Regions from separate parts of the Homo sapiens genome. Here region 2 is linked to region 1. Evidence: fine-mapped expression QTL. A gene starts in region 1. The other region holds a variant in brackets. All regions are shown on one strand. Distances are between the middles of the regions.

Region 1 (5,000 bases):
TTTCTCCTTACTATCCATACTGTTACCAAACAAATTTAATCCTAAAACCATGAGTTGAGCAGAGTGAAAAGCACACTGGCTTTGAAGTCAAAGAGACCTGGGTTCAAATTCAGCCCCTGCCACCCACTACATAATCATATCCCTAAAAAGCCTACGTTAACTCTCTCACCAAGGGTTAAATAAACTGTATAACGCACCTAAGACAGGGCCTGACACCCTGTAGATGCTGGATAATATTTATTACCTTTCCCTATTTCCCAAGATCAAGAGCCTCAGTTTCCCACTGTGTACACCAAGGATGACCAAGAAGTTCCATAGGTGGCATGCATTAAGATTATTAAACCACAGAGGCACATTCTGCGTTAAATGTTTCCAAAAGGCTCCTGTGTGTCAGGAAAGTCTCAGCCTGCCAACCTCTGCCAATACGCTTCGTGGGTAAAGCAGCCTCAGTCACCAGCTCCTCTTGAACTCTTAAAAGTAAACGGTGCAGCTTCCCTCCCCCAGGCCAAATCCACAGGTCTAGGAGAAATGAGGACTTGATGCACTGCTTCGAAAAGATGGAGATTTTATGGATTTTAATTTACCGCAAACCAAACTCCTTAGCCTGCCATTCACGTAAGAAGCCACTCCCAATTCTTTGTACTTACATGTACTGGCAGTAAGCTAAGGTTAGCGCTAATGTTAACATGAATGCACCAAGCATTGTAATTTAAATTGATTTTCCAATCACAGGAAATTAAAAGGTATGACAAAAGAAAAAAAGAATCACATTTCTCACATAATGAGGATACACTGAGCTTTGCAGAGTTATACAAACACCTTCTGAAAAAGCAACGGCTTTCTTCTTGATTTCAAAACTGGGTCAAAAACTAGAAGGAACGAGGGAGGAGTGATAGGAACTGCCAATGAGAAGCTGATTTCTTAAAATGACTTAAGTATGGTTACTCAATTATATGGGAATTTAAAAAAATTCCCAAACTAGGAATAGTAACAATCTTTATTTCCATATACTAGTCAACGATACAGCTAAGTTAGTGGGTTACAGAGGGCAATCTAGCAACTGTGTCTAAGTGTGGAAGCCAAAGAAATCTTGTGCAGAAACCTGTTCTTTTTAAGTGCCACCTTCTTGTTCAAGCTACTTCAGCCCGAGGAACTGTTGCAAAAGCATACAATTAAAAGGATATAACACTGCTCAGGAAAAAGTGTTTCAAAAGGCTTAGCTTCACTAAGCTTAATTCTTCATTAAGAACGAACCAAATTCGTATCTCTACCTAATAACGCAATCCCAATAATTTGAGATCTGTGCTTTTCTGTGGTCAGGCCAAGCTGCTCTACTGGCCCCTGAAATGAACTACCCAACGAATCTGACCAAAATTCCTGCCATGAGCTACTATGTTTCTGCAAAGTAATTATTCAAAAGCACTGCTGCTTCTGGTCGATCTTTTTTCTTTATTATAGAAGAGTCCGTTTTCTTCCCCCACGTTCCTTGCTCACACCCCAAACTAAACAGGCATAGTCTTCTCCACCTAGACTTGAGGTCTCTGATCAAAGCCATTAGCCTCAAGACTCCTCCTCCACCCCCACTGCGCTCCCACCCTGTTCCGCGCCCCTCTGCATAGCACCCTCAGTATGACTACCATCTCTTTCCCCGGTCTAATTTTCTCTCATTTCTGACCTTATCGATGACCAGTACTCCCTCTTTACCCAGACCTGGTGCCAGCTCTATCTTCCAATTCCAGTCCCCATCCCTGCCTAGACCCTCCTCAGCTCCCACCCCTGCCCAGGCCTCCCACCTCTGCCCTCTCAGTGCAATCCCCACTGCTCTCATACCTGATTTTATTCAAGTCCTCATTCCTGGCCGCGGCCCCTTCCCTCTTCATTTTAAATCCTACTCAATGCCCCCCCTTTCCGACCCTTGGCTAAAACCCCAACCTCACTCCTAACCCCAACAGTTTTCCTGTGATCCTGTCAAAGACCACTACTCTGGCCGGCCCACACCGCTTTTTCTGACTCTGAGCCTGGTGCCTCCGCCAATCCTTCACTGAAACCTCGTGCCACAAAATCTCCGACCTAGCCTAGTGCACTAGTACCCCATTTCCGACCCCCTACTGCACGCATCCTTCCCACTATATGCTCAAGTGTCTGTCCTCCCATCTCGGATGATAGCCCTGGAGCCTCCTCCCCATCGTCGGCGTGCATAGCCGGAAGCCTAAGGGACCCCTCCTCACCCCAACCCACAGCTCCGCTGCGCATCCCTAATTCCCTTTCACACGCCTCTCCTATGGGTCCCTCTCCCCACTTACCCCCAATCAAGTGACTTCGGTTCCCAACTGGAGCCTGGGGCTTCTCTCTCTCTCTCCGCCCCGCCCCCACTAAAGCCCCAGTCGAATGCCCTCTCTCCCCACACCAAGCCCAGCGGGGTGTGTCCCCTCCCAGGAACTCCAGCCCAGTGGCTTCCCACAGAGGTCTGGGGTTGCCCCTCCTCACCTCCGCGTCCACCACCTCGTGGTAGGCGGGCGGGGGGTCGAAGCCGCCCCCGCCTCCGGTGCTCCCGCCGCGGGAGGGGCCGCCGCCGCCGCCGTCACCTCCGCCGTCGCCCCGCGGGCCCCCGCCGGGCCCGGGGCTGGGGCCACCGCCGCTGTCCATGGGCTCGTAGCCGCCGTAGTCGAGGCCCGGCCGCTCGTTGGTGAGCAGTGCCACGGCCTCGTTAATGTCGTTCTTGGCCAGGCGCAGGGCCTTGCGGATGGTGGCGGGGTCTGAGAAGCCCATGCACAGCAGCGTGGTCATGTGCTGCTCCTCCTCCGATTCCATGGCTTGGGCCTCCTGGCCGCCCCGGCCAGCGCACGGCGAAGCTACGGGTCCCGGGCCTGGCGGGCCGCGCGGCGCACCCTCCGCGCCGCCTCCGCGCCCAGGTTGGCCCCTGCGTTCCTGCCCCGGGTGCTCCGCAGCAGCCGGGCCAGGCTGGGTGCGGGCTTGGGTCCTGCGAGCCGAGCTAGTGCGGTGAGGCGCTCAGGCGCGGCTGCGGCCCGGCCCAGCCCTGCGCGCCGCCATGTTGGCCTCCTCCCCCTCCGCCTCCTCCTCCCCGGGCGGCGGGGCCGCGCCTCGGCTCCCGGAAGCGGCACGGGAGGCGACCGTGCTCGCCGTTGGCAGGCTAGGGTTGGCGGCGGCGTATTCTGTTTGTTTTAAACGAAGGAGCGGAGGGAGGGGCCGCGCCGCGGAGCGTGCCTAAGGTGAAAGGGCTGCCGTGCAGCCAGGCAGAGGCGAGGAAGGCTTCTCCATCGTCGCCACCGCCCGCCTGTTTCGCCGGCAACAGGTTCCCCCGGGACGGGAGGGGCCGCAGCGCCGCGCAGCTCGCAGCGCTGAACGTCGCGGAAATCCCTTGGCCGGCCGAGCCTCCGCAGCCGCGACCCGGCTTCTCTCCGTCCGAGTCCCCCGAGCCTCTCCGAACCCCCGTTGGACTTCCCCTCCCTGGCCGGCGCCGCCCGACCCGCTCCCCCATCCTAGAGGGAATTCCCTGCGCCGCGGCTGTGAGGCACCTCCACCCCGGCCTGAAATGCACCGCAGTCCTGAAGGAAATCCACCCTCATCCCACGCAGATTCACCCGCAACGCTGCCTGAATACGCCTCGCTGCCCACAGAAATTCCTGCCCAAACCAGACGCGTGGACCACCCAAGACGAAATTCACACTCGACCCTAGCCCCGCCAGCCCTTGCCGAAATCACCCTAAACCCGTTGAAATTAATTCCCAGCTGTCCGAATTTTCCTTCCAACATTAACTGACTACCTGTCTCCGCCAAGCTGACTGAACTCTACCGAACTCTTACCCTGAAAGCCCCTGAGAGTCCAAAATATATTTTTCCAGCCCGAAATCTAAATCCCAGTTCTCTGTATGAAAACCTCCAGAAACCCAGACTCTTACTTCCTTCGGCCACGGACTCGTTCGAACATCGTGGACATCACCTTCCCACATTTTTACCGCAGTCTTTGGCTCCGATTCTTTGTCCCTGCCTCTTGGGCAGCATCCTATCCCTGTTTCTTTCCACCTTTGAGGATTCCTCTACCTCTTTAAAGGCCTGCTTTCTTTGCTTTCTCTTCTCACCTTTGGCATTGGCACACTGGGGTCATATCTTTAGTTCCCTTGACTCCACCATCTAAGCCAAGGGTGTCCAATCTTTTGGCTTCCCTGGGCTACATTGGAAGGAGAAAAATTGTCTTGGACCACATATAAAATATTCTAACGCTAATGGTAGCTGATGAAACTTTTAAAAAATCTCATCATGTTTTAAGAAGTTTACGAATTTGTGCTGAGCCGCATTCAAAGCCGTCCTGGGCCTAAGTCCTTGCTATTTTTCCTCTTCAATTTCCTTCAATCCATAGTTCTCTAGGTTATTTTCCCACCCTTTCCCAAGATTCGGATATCCCTTCATTCTTGCTGAGTTCATCTCCTATGCCTATTCCTACATACTTGCTGAGTTCATCTTCTAATGTCCTCATCCTGGTTTCTTCCTGAACCTGAAATCCAGCTAACCTTACTTTTTCATCCCATCAAACCCCTGCTGTTGCCAGCCCAGCACTCACGAAGATCTTTACATACACCAAATATTAAATTAGGGCCGGTACCTAGACATTGTCTCTGCACTCTGCTGGCATATTTTCCCCTGGACCACGAACCCTTCGTACCTAGTAACTTGCCACCTGTGTTTATAAATACCAGCAATTTGATTTACAGGGTGAATTTGTCACTATTGTTTACTTTTAAATGAAGTTACTGTATTTGTTGTTTCCATTAAAGGCGACATTATAAAGCCTAGGCCTCATATCCAAAGCAAATAAAGTCTCAATTTTTTAATTAAAAGTAACAAAAGGAAACCTCACACTTCTGAACAACAATGACAAGAAGGAATGCCTATAATTGGTTTGGGTCACAATGTACATATTGAAATAAAATTTTTATTAAGTATCAACTTCCAGGTACACAATGAAGTTTTAAATGTTTATC
Region 2 (5,500 bases), 150 kb before region 1:
GTCTGACTCCTAAGCCCATGGAGGGCATTCTGAGGTGGTTCAGACAGACCCCGGCTTACCCTTGAACTTCTGCCTGCTGGCTGCATAGGGAGGGGCTGGGGGGAGTTTGAGCATCTCAGGCCATAGAGCCCCTGCCTCACTGTCTCCATCTCTGGGTGGAAAGATGGTGTTTTCCCTGAGAAACTAAGGCTCAGAGAGGTTGAATGGCTCTCCCAAGGTCACACAGCTGGTCAGCTGCAGAGTTGAGAACACAGGAGTCCTGGTGCTCAGGCCAGCATCTCTTTTTTTCTTTGAGTTGTTTCTAGGTTTCCTAGCTCTTGCCTCAGACCTTAAAGAGAGAGGGTCTGATGGGGATGGGCACTGGAGACGGAGCATCCCAGCATTTCACATCTGAGCTGGCTTTCCTCTGCCCCAGGCTGCAGCTCCCACTGGGAGGTGGAGGACCTTGGCACCCACAAGCCGCCTGTGCTGAGGCCACGAGGTCAGCCCAACCAGTGCGTGGGCCACAGGGAGGCCAGCATCCACGCTTCCTGCTGCCATGCCCCAGGTCTGGAATGCAAAGTCAAGGAGCATGGAATCCCGGCCCCTCAGGAGCAGGTGAAGAGGCCCGTGAGGCCGGGTGGGTGGGGTGCTGCGTGTCTCTCCTGCACAGCTTTTCTGTGTCAGTTTGTGCCACCACCATACCGCCATGCATCAGGGTGGCGGTTTGCCAGGTAGATGCTGTGGGCAGCTTCCGCCATTGTGTGGACAGCATGTATATGTGTCTCTGTGTGGCTGGGTCTGTTTTTGCTTTTGTCCAGATCAGTAAGGTTTGCTACCTGGGTACCCCACTCCACTTGGAGTAGAATGTGCATAAATATGGCATAAAGAAATGCAATATGCATGCATTTATTGATTGATCTATTTTTTTCTGAGATGGGGTCTTGCTGTGTTGCCCAGGCTGGTCTCAAATTCCTGGGCTCAAGCAATCCTCTGGTCTCAGCCTCCCCAAGTGTTGGGATTATAGGCATGAGCCGCTGCACCTGGCCTCTCTGATCTATTTAACAAACCTGCTGGGAGGGTCTCAGGGTCAGGAGCAGCACTGGGCTCTGAGGACACAGAGCTCACTCAGCCGTGACCCAGAGGGGGTGCCTGAGCTGCATGCTGAAGGTTGTTAGCATGACCAGCAAGGCAAGAAAAGGCCCTGCCGAGATTAGCAAGGCATGTGCCAAGCCCTGGAATGTGACAGCCGGGCCTTCTAGAAACCTGAGTGTATAACTCTCCTTAAAAGCCAGTAGGAGCTCCTCAAAAGGCAGCCCTAAGGAGTCCACTCTTAAATGAACTCAGAGTCAGTTTTAAAATGCAAGTCTGTGTTGATTCTGGTCTGGATGGTGCATTCCTCGAGAGCAAAAGACAGTCTTGGTCTTGGATCCACTTGCCCTGGGTACACTGAGGGCTGCTAGGTTCCAGGTGCTCTTCCTGGCACTGGGGAGGGATACAGGCCCAAGAGACATGCTGTTCTCCCTCCTGGAGCATCTATTTTAGTGGAGGAAGACAGAAAACAAACCATTAATATAGAGTACTGAAAAGATGCGATGGAGAAAACTATAGCAAGGAAGGGAATGGGGTGGGAGAGAGGTCAGGAGAGGTCTCGCTGACAAGGTGGACGAAACAGGCCATGAGGCAGAGAACATGTTCCAGGCAAAGCAAAGGCCCCCAGGTGGGGATGTGCAGGGAGTACCAGGAAACCAGAGAGGTGGGAATAGTTATGAGATGGGGGGTGCCTCAGAGGGGACAGGGCCAAGTCAGGTGAGACCTGAGGGTCACAGTCAGCAGTGAGCTGGGGCCATGCAGGGGTCTGGCCTCAGAGGAGTGTGGTCTGGCCTGGATCTGAACCTCTCACTGTGGCCTAGCTGCTGAGCTGAGAAGAGATGACAAGGACCTTGGGCAGAAGCAGGGAGACTGGAGGGAGGCGGTGGAGGGTCCAGGCGTTGGGGCGGGGCTCAGGCTGGAGTCTGAAGGGAGCCTGCAGGCCTGGTGGGTGGATGTGGGTGGGAGAGGGGGAGGATGGCACCAAGGCTCGGGCCCCTGGACAGATGGAGTTGCCATTAAGTGGGATGGGGCAGGCTATGGGGCCATCAGTTTCAGAGGGATGAGTTTGGCACTGGCATGGTAGGCATCTGTCTATCTCCACGGCCCTCAAACCAGGCATGAAGCAGGAGCTCACGTGTTTGGTCAGCCATGGTGCAGAACCGCCTGGGTGGGAGGTGCGGGGTGGGAGATACACGGTTGTGTCCCAAATGGGCTCTGAGCCAGCGAGGGCCGTCTGCACTTTGGCCTCACAGAAGGATGTCGGAGGGAGAAATGAAGTGTGGGTGGGGGTCCCGGGCCACGCTAGACATGTGCTTTCTTTTCCTCGGGCTCTGGCAGGTGACCGTGGCCTGCGAGGAGGGCTGGACCCTGACTGGCTGCAGTGCCCTCCCTGGGACCTCCCACGTCCTGGGGGCCTACGCCGTAGACAACACGTGTGTAGTCAGGAGCCGGGACGTCAGCACTACAGGCAGCACCAGCGAAGGGGCCGTGACAGCCGTTGCCATCTGCTGCCGGAGCCGGCACCTGGCGCAGGCCTCCCAGGAGCTCCAGTGACAGCCCCATCCCAGGATGGGTGTCTGGGGAGGGTCAAGGGCTGGGGCTGAGCTTTAAAATGGTTCCGACTTGTCCCTCTCTCAGCCCTCCATGGCCTGGCACGAGGGGATGGGGATGCTTCCGCCTTTCCGGGGCTGCTGGCCTGGCCCTTGAGTGGGGCAGCCTCCTTGCCTGGAACTCACTCACTCTGGGTGCCTCCTCCCCAGGTGGAGGTGCCAGGAAGCTCCCTCCCTCACTGTGGGGCATTTCACCATTCAAACAGGTCGAGCTGTGCTCGGGTGCTGCCAGCTGCTCCCAATGTGCCGATGTCCGTGGGCAGAATGACTTTTATTGAGCTCTTGTTCCGTGCCAGGCATTCAATCCTCAGGTCTCCACCAAGGAGGCAGGATTCTTCCCATGGATAGGGGAGGGGGCGGTAGGGGCTGCAGGGACAAACATCGTTGGGGGGTGAGTGTGAAAGGTGCTGATGGCCCTCATCTCCAGCTAACTGTGGAGAAGCCCCTGGGGGCTCCCTGATTAATGGAGGCTTAGCTTTCTGGATGGCATCTAGCCAGAGGCTGGAGACAGGTG[C/T]GCCCCTGGTGGTCACAGGCTGTGCCTTGGTTTCCTGAGCCACCTTTACTCTGCTCTATGCCAGGCTGTGCTAGCAACACCCAAAGGTGGCCTGCGGGGAGCCATCACCTAGGACTGACTCGGCAGTGTGCAGTGGTGCATGCACTGTCTCAGCCAACCCGCTCCACTACCCGGCAGGGTACACATTCGCACCCCTACTTCACAGAGGAAGAAACCTGGAACCAGAGGGGGCGTGCCTGCCAAGCTCACACAGCAGGAACTGAGCCAGAAACGCAGATTGGGCTGGCTCTGAAGCCAAGCCTCTTCTTACTTCACCCGGCTGGGCTCCTCATTTTTACGGGTAACAGTGAGGCTGGGAAGGGGAACACAGACCAGGAAGCTCGGTGAGTGATGGCAGAACGATGCCTGCAGGCATGGAACTTTTTCCGTTATCACCCAGGCCTGATTCACTGGCCTGGCGGAGATGCTTCTAAGGCATGGTCGGGGGAGAGGGCCAACAACTGTCCCTCCTTGAGCACCAGCCCCACCCAAGCAAGCAGACATTTATCTTTTGGGTCTGTCCTCTCTGTTGCCTTTTTACAGCCAACTTTTCTAGACCTGTTTTGCTTTTGTAACTTGAAGATATTTATTCTGGGTTTTGTAGCATTTTTATTAATATGGTGACTTTTTAAAATAAAAACAAACAAACGTTGTCCTAACTCTTGCATAGACTTGACTGCCTAGGGTGATGCCTTGCTTATACTAGGAACTGGGTAAGTTTGTTGAATAGTTGAGTAAGCCAAGTATTTGATGAGTACTTTTATCTTGAGTACAAGTATTGGGCAAGTACTGGTGATGTGAACTTACTCCTTGTGCCTATCCTAGGAATGAAATGAATGTCTTCCTGCAGCTCCCCTGACCACCCTGACAGTCAAAGTGCCTCCTCCTTGGTGACAGGTGCCCTACAGCACTCTAGATGCTCTGTTGTCCTGACCTCCCAATGCCCTTTTCATTCTTTTCTCCCCAGTACCTGGCACACAGCCTGGCCCGAGTATTTACGGAATAAGTTACAGTGCCAGATGCTTCTGTAATGAGCCAGTGCTAAGTCCATGGCTTTTTTCATGATTTAAAATTCAGAACAGTCTCAGATTGGGTGCAATGGCTCACACCTGTAATCTCAGTACTTTGGGAGGCTGAGGCAGGAGGATTGCTTGTGTTTAGGAATTCAAGACCCTGGGCAACAGTGAGACCCCGTCTCTATAAAAAAATTTAAAAGATTAGCGAGGTGTGGTAGCACATGCCTGTGGTCCCGGCTACTCAGGAGGCTGATATGGGAGGCTTGCTTGAGCTGGGAGGCTGAGGGTGCAGTGAGCTGTAATTACATCATCACTGCACTGCAGCCTGGGTTACAGAGTGCATAATGATCCCATTCAATGTGGGACCTCCAGGCCCTCCACTCTAAGGCTGGTGAATATAGCTGTCTTAAGCAAGTTCTCTCTCTCTCTAGACAGCCCATGTCATAAGGAATCTCAGGCAAAATTCCTCCCAGATTACATTTTCTGACAATTCAGTGTCATATATGGAAAGCATTCAAGAGTTGACAGATGGCAATGGCTTGAACACCCAACTGTGTTATCTCTGCCCGTTGGAACCTAGGCCTGTGGTGCAACCCTAGACTCTCTCTCCTTCCCCTCCACAGAATCAAGTATCAGCTGGTTAGAGATCCACACCCTGACAGCTCTGTGATGTTGGAACAACTTGGTTCTTGCAGAGGGTTAGCAGGTGGTCACCAGGGATCGGGGAGGAAGGGGTGTGGCTTGCAGGAAGGCGAAAATCTGGACTAGCAAATAGGGAAGGGGACCCATGTGAGCAACGCTGGCCACTAGGAATGAGACTGAGACCTGTGGGATCTAGCAAGAAGCCCAGTGTGACCAGCGACACGATCTATGCTGGGGACCACTTGGGAGAGCCAAAAGCTTTGGTGGAGATGAATGGAGACCATCAACCTAAGTTCAGCATCCTCCTCTAAGCTTTGCAGATGAATCCTGAAATGGTCAGCCCCTCCAGAGAAAAGAACAGCAACAGGCTCAGAGGACCCACAGTCCCCTTTATTAGTGTAAAGTACTAAGAGGAATCAACAGCATTTAGCACCAGGCACAGGCTCGTGTTCCCCCGCCCACTACGGCTGTGTTCTGATATATGAAGAATGGCGGCAAGACTCCAACTCTGTTTTTGAAAAATTTATTTTATACTCTTAGAAGCTAAGAACTTTGCCACACATGAACCAAATTTAGAATTAAGGTTCTTCCCTAGTGTATCTACTTCC

Alleles and levels. Alleles are on the strand shown, and positions count from the first base shown. SD is a standard deviation of normalised expression in the study named.
In carriers of allele C in region 2, the expression in esophagus muscle of the gene that starts at base 3,062 in region 1 tends to be lower than with T alone (small effect, 0.34 SD a copy in GTEx).

What was found. PIP is the estimated chance that this variant, and not a neighbour inherited with it, causes the effect.
Region 2: its variant is the best candidate, but not a certain one, in a credible set for the expression of USP24 in esophagus muscle (GTEx, PIP 0.51).

Annotation. Positions count from the first base shown.
Region 1 is chr1:55,212,303-55,217,302 of GRCh38, forward strand. It overlaps USP24 (ubiquitin specific peptidase 24), which reads right to left and starts at 3,062. Exons shown (of 68, transcript NM_015306.3): 1 at 2,488-3,062. The coding sequence starts at 2,811. It overlaps LOC100507634 (a long non-coding RNA gene), which reads left to right and starts at 3,106. Exons shown (of 1, transcript NR_038320.1): 1 at 3,106-5,000. RefSeq lists an enhancer at 1,950-2,009 and silencers at 2,470-2,659, 2,730-3,239.
Region 2 is chr1:55,060,960-55,066,459 of GRCh38, forward strand. It overlaps PCSK9 (proprotein convertase subtilisin/kexin type 9), which reads left to right. Exons shown (of 12, transcript NM_174936.4): 11 at 416-597; 12 at 2,410-3,893. The coding sequence ends at 2,625. USP24 (ubiquitin specific peptidase 24) reads right to left here. Exons shown (of 68, transcript NM_015306.3): 68 at 5,400-5,500. Among named protein-coding and RNA genes, the nearest start is that of PCSK9, 24 kb to the left of the region's middle. The variant C/T (reference allele first, on the strand shown) is at 3,196.